Homo sapiens: one gene and its partners. The protein of the gene in region 2 interacts with the protein of the main gene of each other region in a pairwise test. Each region holds a gene or a part of one and is shown on either strand. Other genes may lie near its edges. The genes, in order: MALL, KASH5 and GALNT2.

Region 1 (3,661 bases), on a different chromosome or scaffold from region 2:
TAATACAGAAAATTGGTACCAGGAGTCAGGCACTGCTATAAAGATACCTGAAAATGTGGAAGCAACTTTGGAACTGGATAATGGGCAAAGGTTGGAACAGTTTGGGGTACCCAGAAGAAGACAGGAAGATGTAGGAAAGTTTGGAACTTTCTAGAGACTTGTTGAATGATTCTGACCAAAATGCTGATGGTGATATGGACAATGAAATCCAGGCTGAGGTGGTCTCAGATGGAGATGAGGAACTTATTGGGAACTGGAATAAAGGTCACTCTTGCTATGCTTTAGCAAAGAGACTGGTGGCATTTTACCCCTGTCCTAGAGATCTGTGGCACTCTGAACTTAAAAGAGATGATTTGGGGTATCTGGCAGAAGAAATTTCTAAGCATTGAAGCATTCAAGATGTGACCTGACTTTTCCTGAAAGTGTACAATCATATGCATTCACAAAGAGATGGTCCAAAATTGGAACTTATGTTTAAAAGGGAAGCAGAACATAAAAGTTTGGAAAATTTGCAGCCTGATCATGTGTTAGAAAAGAAAAACATATTTTCTGGGGAGAAATTCAAGCTGTCAGCTGCAGAAATTTTCATGAGTAATGAGGGTCCCCAAGACAAAGGGGACGATATCTCCAGGGCATTTCAGAGATCTTCACAGTAGCCCCTCCCATCACAGGCTCAGAGACCTAGGAGGGAAAAATGGTTTTGTGGGCCAGGCTCAGGGCCCTGTTGCTCTGCACAGTCCTGGAACACAGCACTCTGCAACCCGGCTGCCCCAGCTCCAGCAGCTGGGGGCCAAGGTACAGCTTGGGCCATTGCTTCAGAGTGTGTAAGCCTCAAGCCTTGGCAGCTTACACATGGTGTTGGACCTACAGGCATGCAGAAGGCAAGAATTGAGGTTTAGGAACCTCTGCCATGATTTCAGAGGATGTATGGAAATGACTGGATGTACAGGCAGAGTCTGCTGCAGGGGTGGAGCCCTTATGAAGAACCTCTACTAGGGCAGTGCAGAAGGGACATGTGGGGTCAGACCCCCCACAGAGAGTCCCCACTGTGACACTGGCTAGTACAGCTGTGAGAAGAGCTGTCCTGTAGACCCCAGAATGGTAGGTTCACTGACAGTTTGCACTGGTCACCTTGAAAAAGCACAGACACTCAATGCCAGTTTGTGAAAGCAGCTGCAGGGGCTGTACTGTGAAGAGCCACAGAGGTGGAGCTGCCCAAGGTCTTGGGTGCCCACCCTTTGTAACAGGGTGACTTGAATCTGAGACATGAAGTCAAAGGAGATTTTGGAATGTCGACATTTAATGGCTGCCCAGCTGGGTTTAGGACTTGCATGGGGCCTGTAGCCCCTTTGTTTTGACCAATTTCTCCCATTTGGAATGGGAGCATTTACCCAATGCCTGTACCCTTATTGTGTCTTGGAAGTAACTAACTTGCTTTTTGATTTTACAGGCTCATAGGCAGAAGAGACTTCTCTTGTCTTAGATGAGACTTTGGACTTAAACTTTTGGGTTAATGCTGGAATAAGTTGAAACTTTGGGGGACTGTTGAGAAGGCATGATTGTATTTTTAAATGTGAGAAGGATGAGATTTGGGAGGGGCCAGTGGTATAATGATATGGTTTGGCTCTTTGTCCCCACCCAAATCTCATCTCCTATTGTAATCCACATGTATCAAGGGAGGGACCTGGTGGGAGGTGATTGGATCATGGGGGCAGTTTCCCCTATGCTGTTCTCATGATAGTGAATGAGTTCTCATGGGATCTGATGGTTTAAAAGTATGGCACTTCCCCCTCCCCCATCTCTCCTGCTGCCATGCAAGGCATGCCTTGCTTAGCCTTCACCTTCCACCATGATTGTAAGTTTCCTGAGGCCTCCCTAACCATGAGGAACTAGTCAATTCAACCTCTTTTCTTTATAATTTACCCAGTCTCTGGTTGTTTATAGCAATGTGAGAATAGACTAATACACAGTGTTTTTAATGTAATATCTATGTCGTAAGCAATGGCAGACTAATAAAGATCAGTATATTTCAGTTACGCAAAGTCAATCTTGGTCTGAAATATTAAATGAAAAATTCCAGAAATTAACAATTAAATGTGTGCCTTTCTGAGTACAATGATGAAATCTTGCACTGTCCCGCCCTGTTCCACCTGGGATGTGAATCAGACATTTGTCTAGCATGTCTACACTGTCTGTGCCACCCATGTTAGTCGCTTTGTACTCATCTGGGCTATCAGATCAACTGTTGTGGCACTGCAGTGCTTGCATTCAAAGAATCCTTATTTTACTTCATAATGGCCCCAAATTGCAAGAGTAGTGATGCTGGCAATTTGGATATGCCAAAGAGAAGTCATAGGGTGCTTTCTTTAAGTTAAAAAGTATAAGTTTTCAGCTTAATAAGGAAAGAAAAAAAATATGCTGAGGTTGTTAAGATCTACAGTAAGAATGAATTGTCTATCTGTGAAATTGTGAAGAAGAAAAAAGAAGTGCATGCATAGCAAATTCGGAGTTCAGTACTCTCTGAGGATTCAGGCATCCCCTAGGGGTCTTGGGACTTATCCTCCGGAGATGGGGGACCACTGTATACTGTCTTAGGTATGCTGAGGAATTGTTTACTTCGTATACATGTGATAATGTGAGAAAGTTTGCGGAGTTTTTTTGGAAACATACTGAAGTGTGTGGAATAGAATGGCATGATGTTTGGTGTTTGCTTTAAAATTCCTTAGTGGGGACAAAGGCTAGATGAAACAAATGTGGTAAGGTCTTGATAATGCTGGAATCTGGGTTATGGCTACATGAGGGCCTATAATACAATATTCTGTACTTTTAAATATGTCTTCAATTGTTCAGTGTGGAACAGTTTTAAATGGTTTTTTGAGATGACGTGATAAATAAAAATTAGTGATGTAATATTAAATGAAAGCATCTACATCCAAAATTATTTGTAGAGTACAATTAAAGTATATATATACATATATATACATATATACATATGTATATACGTATATATGTATATATACTTTGCATATAATTCATGTGGGATATGGAAGAAATACCCTGTCGCAGGGATTGTGTTAGGGCCTTGAGAATGGAGTGATTTTTTTCCTACTAGCTTTTTCTTCAGTGTTGCTCCAAGGATTTTACCAGGAAGAAAATTTAGGGGAAACACATCAGAATATGCTTGATCACAGGTCATTGTGTATTCTCCTAACAGGGAAGCCAGTGAAGGGGAATACCAGGAATTATTTACGCTTGCAGATAAATGTCTTCATTTTAGCGTGGTAGTAAAAATGGTAAGATAAAAAGTCTTGGTTCCATAGGAGCCTAGCCCAGGATCCCTCCCTGCCCAGAAAGGCCAATTGTCCTCACCCAACCCAGAACGTCCACCCAGGAAGAGCCATGCTGCTGGTTCTTACCAGAACTCTCCAGGATTCAAATCTTTTGTAAAATCCAAACAAGTAAGACAACAGGAACATCAAGGAGATGAGAAACGAGGTGAGCGAGACATACATCACCCATCCTTGCAGCAAGGGGTATACTATGTGGGTGGCGGCTACCATGGTCCAGACCAAGAACCCAAATATCTGGAAGATAAAAGCATAAAAGAAGGGGCTTCATTAGCTAGTGTGGAGTATGTTTCCCTTTGCAGGGTGTCTCTTTT
Region 2 (3,661 bases):
TTCATCACCATTGCTCCAGCCTCCTCCCTGCCTCCAGTAGGTCCCTCACATGGTTCCAGAGGGATCTTTTTAAGCCCGGAGCTGACCCCACCCTTCTTGTGGCTTTATGAAGAAAAGTACAATCTGTTAGCTTGTCAGAGATTTCCTTTCATGATCTGGCCCTGGCCTCATCTCTCACTAGTCACCCCTAGTTACCCTCTACTCCTCAAGCATATCGTGATTTTATGCCAAGGCCTTGCACAGGCTGTGCTAGTGCCTCAAAGGCTGGCTTCCTTCTTTCCTTCCTTCCTTCCTTCCTTCCTTCCTTCCTTCCTTCCTTCCTTCCTTCCTTCCCTCCTTCCCTCCCTCCCTCCTTCCATCCTTCCTTCCTTCCTTCCTTCCACTCAAGTATCAGTTTTCCTTCAATATCTTCCCCAATCTCTGACCTGACACAGATACCCCTTCTCTGGGCTCCCACAGGCCCATCCCCCACCTCTAGCACAATGATCATTCTGCACTGGGGCAACCCATTTGCAGGGTCTCTCCTATCAGGCCTTGAGCACTGAGAGGCCCGGCCCCAAGGGACTCAGCTCTGTATCCCTGGGCCCATCGCAGGTTGCACTCTGAGGCCTGGCTCAGTCTTCCCCTTGACAAGCCTGTCTCTCAGGGGCATCTGACAGCTCAAAGCAGAAGCCCAATCTAACCTACACTTCTGAGGGATGAGGCTCTGTCCCCAACAAGCTGTGTGACCATTGGCATGTGATTTCTCCCTGAGCCTCAGTTTCCCATGAGTAACAAGATGAGGATGCCTGCCTTACAGAGATACTGGGAGAGTTAAATGAGAACCCAAACAAGCTCTGGTGTCAAAGAGAAACAAAAGCTTTTCTCAAACCAGGGAAAAAGTGATCAGAGAAATGAGTCTCTCCTTAAGGATGGCAAAGAGCTTTGAAGTGGTGCAGTTCTCAAGACAATACAGCTTGTTTATAGAGCTGTTTACAACATTTTCTTTAAAAGAAAAAAAAAAAATAGAGAGAGAGCCCAGAGCAGTGGCTCATGCCTGTAATCCCAGCACTCTAGGAGACTGAGGTAGGCGGATCACTTGACCCCAGGAGTTCAGCCAGACTGGGCAACACAGGGAGACCTCATTTCTACAAAAAATAGAAAATTTAGCTACACATGGTGGCACATGCCTGTGGTTGCAGCTACTTGGGAGGCTGAGATGGGAGGATCACCTGAGTCCAGGGAGATTGAGGCTGCAGTGAGCTGTGATAATGCCACTGCACCCCAGCCGGGGCAACAGAGAAGCGAGTGAGACCGTCTCAAAATAAATTAATTAATTAAAAAAAAAAAAGCCAGGTGCAGTGGCTCATGCTTGTAATCCCAGCACTTTGGGAGGCTGAGGTAGGAGGACAGTTTGAGCCCAGGAGTTTGAGACCAGTCTGGACAACACAGTGAGATCTCAACTCTATAAAAAAATTTTAAAAAGGCTGGGCATGGTGGCTCATGCCTGTAATCCCAGCACTTTCGGAGGCCGAGGCGGGCAGATCACCTAAGATCAGGAGTTCAAGACCAGCCTGGCCAACATGGCGAAACCCCGTCTCTACTAAAAAAAATACAAAAATTAGCCAGGTGTGGCAGCAGGTTCCTGTAATCCCAGCTGCTTGGGAGGCTGAGGCAGGGAGAACTGCTTGAACCTGGGAGGTGGAGGTTGCAGTGAGCTGAGATCGTGCCACTGCACTCCAGCCTGGGTGACAGAGTGAGACTCCATCTCAAAAAAAAAAAAAAAGCCAGTCATGGTGGTGTGTTCCTGTAATCCCAGCTACTTGGGAGGCTGAGGTGGGAGGATTGCTTATCCAGGAGATTGAGGCTGCAGTGAGTCAAGTTCACTCCAGCCTTGGCAACAGAATAAGACAAGATCCTGTCTCTAAAAACAAAAAACAAAAAAAACCCCAATGGTTATTGCTGAGTTAAAGATGTCATAGTGAGCTTGCTGGCTTTTCTTAAAGGTGCTAACATTTGAAACATAAATGCTTAATATATCCTTAAAATGCTGGAATAAACAACTTACTTATTCCCTTCCTACAGTAGTACGATTTTAAATAATGTAATTCCCAAGAGTGTTTTCTAAAAAACAAACCAACAATAAAAGCCACAGTGCAACTTGTGTGTTTGCTTGGTTCACCTTTGTCTACAACGCTGGCAGGTCAGTCCCTGGGGTAGGGGTGGTGTCTGGTCTGGCTTGTGGCTGGGTGTCCAGCACACACTGGGCCCTCAATTAACATTTTCTCATCAAATGGGGAACAAGCAAAAGTGTGAGTGAATGGGCTGGCCAGGGCGGCACCTGGAGCTCCTGGCCCCTTTCCAGCTCCTGGACTTCAGAGCTTTTCCTGTGCTCACCTGTCCCCCAGCTGGGGCTTCAGATGGAAACTCAGTTTCCTCACTGGTCTCATGGATGACTTCCTCCCACTGCCACACCCCACACAGAGGGTTGGAGAGATCAGCAGTTGCCACTTCCTGTTTCTGGGACAGAAGTTGTTTCCGAGGTCAGGGAGAGCCATATTAAGGTAGAAAACAAGGTCAGAGATAGAAATAGGTTTAGGTGTGCGGCTGAAAATAGGATGAGAGATAGAAAAGGGCTGGTGTGGGGCTGGGGTTGGGGAGTGGGCAGAAGCAGGAACAGGGGAGGATTTGGTGCCAGGACCAAGGTCTAGGTTCGAGATGAAGTTAAGGAGTGAGATGGTCATGGAGGGAGACGAGATAGGGGTGAGTCAAAGCTGGATCAGACTGGGGTCTGGCACAGGCCTGGGTCTGGCAGTGGGTTTGGGGTTAGGATCCGAGGTAGAGAGAGTTAGAGAAAAGCTAAGGTTGCGATAGGAGCCTCTGGCAGCAATGTGGGTTAGGGCTAGGCTGGTGTGAGGATCAGAGTAGGGAGATGTTTGGAGATTCTGCCTTGGTGGCCTGCAGCTTATTCCAGGGGTGTTAGGCCCACCTGTCGAATGGCCTCGATCTCCAAGCCCAGCGATGGGGGTAGCAGCTCGGTCCAGCCCACTCTTCTCAGCTGGGCCCCTTCAGGTAGCCTGGCCACACAGGAAGGAGGGAGGAAGATGGCCTCTGTGCCTGGTGGCCACTCAGTCAGCTCATGCTGGCCTCCCTTCCCTGCCCACCTTGGGGCTGGAGGCCAGGGTGTCCCTGCCCTTAGGCTCCCCTCCTGCCTCCTCCTACCCCTTGAAATTCCACTCACTCATCGGGCCCCTCATAGGTCTGACTCAGCTGCTCCTCCAGGCGTGAAATCTCCAGCCTCAGTTCCTGCAAAGGAGGAAGTGGGGAGCACATTTGGCTCTGCATTTTTCCCACCCTCCCATCCACCTCTGGGCTCCTCTTCCAGGGTTCTTTCCCCTTTCCTGACTACTTTGGGCTCCCCAGACACATACTGCCTAGGGACAAGGGGAAGAAAGCCATGACAGAATGTTAGGAAGCCAAAGAGAGAGAGCAACAGGAATCCAGAAGCTAAAGCACAGGCCAAGAGGCCAGGCGCAGTGGCTCATGCCTGTAATCCCAGCACTTCAGGAGGCCCAGGCGGGCAGATCACAAGGTCAGGAGATCGAGACCATCCTGGCTGACAGGGTGAAACCATGTCTCTACTAAAAATACAAAAAATTAGCCGGGCATGGTGGCACACGCT
Region 3 (3,661 bases), on a different chromosome or scaffold from region 2:
TCTTGTTTAACAGGCACTCCCTTACACATTTTGGTATCAAGTCATCAACACAGATGGACATTTAGAGATGCGGATTGTGAGCAGAACCCTAGAGAGGGGCTCCCACTGCCAGGACAGGCTGGGACTCTGCAGAGCAGGGAAGGAGGAGCACCCAGAGCTGGCGCAGGGGTTTGGAGACAGACAGGTGAAAGAGGGCCCTCTGCAGGCGTCTCCCTGACAACTGGGGTCAGAACCGGGGACTCGGTCCTGGCCTTGGTCTTCCCAGATGACTCCAGGGTGGAGGCAATGACTTTCTGAGACTTTTCTGTTGTGAAATCAGGGTTAGACTAGAAGCTGGCTTAGGCTCTTGGCTCCAGTAGGTTCTGTGCCTCAGTTTCCCTACATCCCATCTATCTCTAAGGACCGACTGTAAGAACAGGGGCAGGCACTCCAAGTATGGGCATACAGGGAGGACCTTTTGTGCTTGCATTTCTATTCCTGACACTAACTGTTACCCCATGCCTTGAGAAAGGGTGTGTCCACAAGCTGCCACAAGGGAATACGTCAGAGAAAACCGGCTTACAAGGCAGGTAGAAAGTCTATTCTGAAATGTTTAAAGAAACTGTGTGTATATGTGTGTGTGTGTATATATGTATATATATGTGGTGTGTATATATATGTATATATCTGTGGTGTCTATATATGTATATATGTGTTTATATATGTATATATATGTGGCATGTATATATACGTATATATATGTGGCATGTATATACGTATATATATGTGGCATGTATATATACGTATATATATGTGGCATGTATATATACGTATATATATGTGGCATGTATATATACGTATATATATGTGGCATGTATATATGTATGTATCTGTGGTGTCTATGTATATATGTGGTGTTTATATATGTATATATCTGTGGCATTTATATATGTATATCTATGTGGCATGTATATACATGTATATATGTGGCATGTATATTTGTATATATATGTGGCATGTATATATATGTATATATCTGTGGTGTATGTATATATGTATATATATGTGGTGTTTGTATATATATATGTGGTGTGTATATGTGGTGTGTATATATATGTGGTGTTTACATATGTATACATGTGGCATGTATATATGTTGTGCTTGTATATCTATGTGGCGTATATATATGTGGTGTTTATATAAATGTAGCATGTATCTATATGTATATATATGGTGTGTTTATATGTATATATATGTGGCGTTTATATATGTATATCTATGTGGCATGTATATATATGTATGTATCTGTGGTGTGTGTGTGTATATGTATATATATGTGGTGTTTGTATATATGTATATATGTGGCGTGTATATATATGTGGTGTGTATATATGTGGTGTTTACATATGTATATATGTGGCGTGTATACATGTGGTGTTTATAGATGTATATGTGGCATGTATATATATGTATACATATGTGGTGTGTATATATATGTGGCGTTTATATATGTATAAATGTGGCATCTATATATACGTATACATGTGGTGTGTATATATGTATATATGCGGTGTTTACATATGCATATATGTGGCATGCATATGTATATATATGTGGTGTTTATATATGTATATATGTGGCAGGTATATGTATATGTGGTGTGTATATATGTATATGTGGTGTGTATATATATGTATATATATGTGGTGTGTATACATGTATATATATGTGGTGTGTATATATATACGTATATATGTGGCATGTATATATGTGTATATATGTGGCGTGTATATATGTATATATGTGGCATGTATATATGTATATATGTAGCATGTATATATATGTGGTGTGTATATATGTGTGTATATATATGCTCACATATATACACACATAGACACACACACTTGCATTATGTATCGAGTACCATCCATGTGAACATTAATCATTTAGAATTTTTGTAAATTGAAATAGAAAAAAGTATTTGATGAATAAACAAAAGTAGATAATTTCTCTTTAAATTTTCAGCGGCATAGGGAAGAGAATGAGAATATAATCAGAAATAAGCAACATTAGGTTTGTGGCTTAAGTCTAATAGGGCAGCTAGACATTATTCACAGTGATGCAAAAGAACACATAAGTACACGCAGAGATGGATGCTTTGAGAGGCAGCACAGAGCAAGAGGGCGCAGGCCGTGGCTACCCTGGTCTGGGTTAATCACGGGCACCCACGGGTGCCTGCAAGCCGTACCTGTCTGCTGTCATTTTCTCGGCAGCCCTGCAGCTTTATAAGAGAGCCCGGTGCCCGGTCCACCACAGTAAGGCACAAATCCATGTGCTTCACCGACTTCTCCTTCGTCAAGGCCCATTCCTGGAACACAAAACCAGAAGTCAGAGGCGTGCTATGCACCGGGCTGTGAAAGGAAAGAAGGGGCATCGATGAGGGCTCAAAAAGGAAATGGGTCACGGGGTGGAGCTTAGATTCAGAACCCCTGAGCCAACTGAGAACGAAACAATTACTTTTTGCCTAAGGGCAAATTTATAACATCAGAGATGTGGGAGAACCTCACAACTGAGCAGTAAGTTGGCTGAGTGATGTGCAGAAGTGCTTTGAGGACCTCAGTAACTAAAATAAAACTATTAACTATTTTAGCCCCAAATACAAGTTAGACTGCCTTGTTCATTTTTCTATAATTCAATGTGAGCTGTAAAAACTGTGGCACAAGCTTGGTTATACACCAGGTAGACAGTTGGCAACTGGTCCACCCATGCTATTTTGGAATGACTCTGCCCTCATGCAGGTATGGCCTGCAAACAGCATTGATGAATGTGAACTGTAGTAAATAACACATTGCATATGTAAGCAAAATATATCGTGTATAGCCTCCTAAGTGAATGCTAATTGATCTATGGGTGCTCATGAAGCCCTCTGAAAACTGGAGGAATAGATCTATGAATTTCTTTGAATACATTACAGCTAAATTTAATGGGGTGCTATGTGCCAAGCATTATTTTAAGCCCTTTATACAACAGCTCCATGAGGGCTATTATTATTCTCATTTTATAGATGAGAAAACTGAGCTAGAGAGTGTTTAAATAACACACCATGATGTTAACAAACAAACACACACATATATGTACAAACACACACAAGTTAAAGGCTGTGACAGGGTGAGAGGACAACCATTTTGGATACTAAATGAGACATGGTCCCAGGTGGCAGAGGAGGCCGGAGCCTGTTCCAGGCAGGGCCACAGCAGGGACTGGAAGGTGAGGCTTCTGACCATCACTCTCCATTTGTCCCACTCAAAGGGATGAACACCCCTTAATATCGAGGGGCAGCAAGGCCCTTTCCAGTTTAAAACCCCACAGGGACTCACTATCCACTTCCATCCCCTTCCTCTCTAAGCCCCAGCACGCTGCAGTGGCCCTCCCCTCCGTCTGTCTGTCTGTCTTTCTATCGGTCTGTCCCATGACCACCTGCTGCACACCTGTATGACACCGGCGCTGTCACAGAGCCAGGCTCCCTTTCTAGTGGGGAACATGAAAGACACACAAATAAATGTATTCTGCAACTTCAGGCACTATTATGTGCTATGAAGACACTGTTTTTTTCTTGGTTCTTGGAAACAGAGGTAAGGAAAGGAACAAATAGTGTTTAAAGAAGCCTCACTGTCTAGTATCT

Evidence for each region.
Region 1: the proteins of KASH5 (region 2) and MALL interact in binary tests that used the Homo sapiens proteins (3 or more experiments, as listed by UniProt).
Region 3: the proteins of KASH5 (region 2) and GALNT2 interact in binary tests that used the Homo sapiens proteins (3 or more experiments, as listed by UniProt).

What each region holds. Positions count from the first base shown.
Region 1 is NC_000002.12:110,088,187-110,091,847, forward strand, and holds part of MALL (MAL-like protein), read right to left. Parts: intron 3,585-3,661; coding exon 3,417-3,584; intron 1-3,416.
Region 2 is NC_000019.10:49,408,591-49,412,251, reverse strand, and holds part of KASH5 (protein KASH5), read right to left. Parts: intron 3,286-3,661; coding exon 3,221-3,285; intron 3,057-3,220; coding exon 2,969-3,056; intron 2,500-2,968; coding exon 2,377-2,499; intron 1-2,376. UniProt on the Homo sapiens protein: As a component of the LINC (LInker of Nucleoskeleton and Cytoskeleton) complex, involved in the connection between the nuclear lamina and the cytoskeleton.
Region 3 is NC_000001.11:230,273,131-230,276,791, reverse strand, and holds part of GALNT2 (polypeptide N-acetylgalactosaminyltransferase 2 precursor), read right to left. Parts: intron 2,348-3,661; coding exon 2,228-2,347; intron 1-2,227. UniProt on the Homo sapiens protein: Catalyzes the initial reaction in O-linked oligosaccharide biosynthesis, the transfer of an N-acetyl-D-galactosamine residue to a serine or threonine residue on the protein receptor.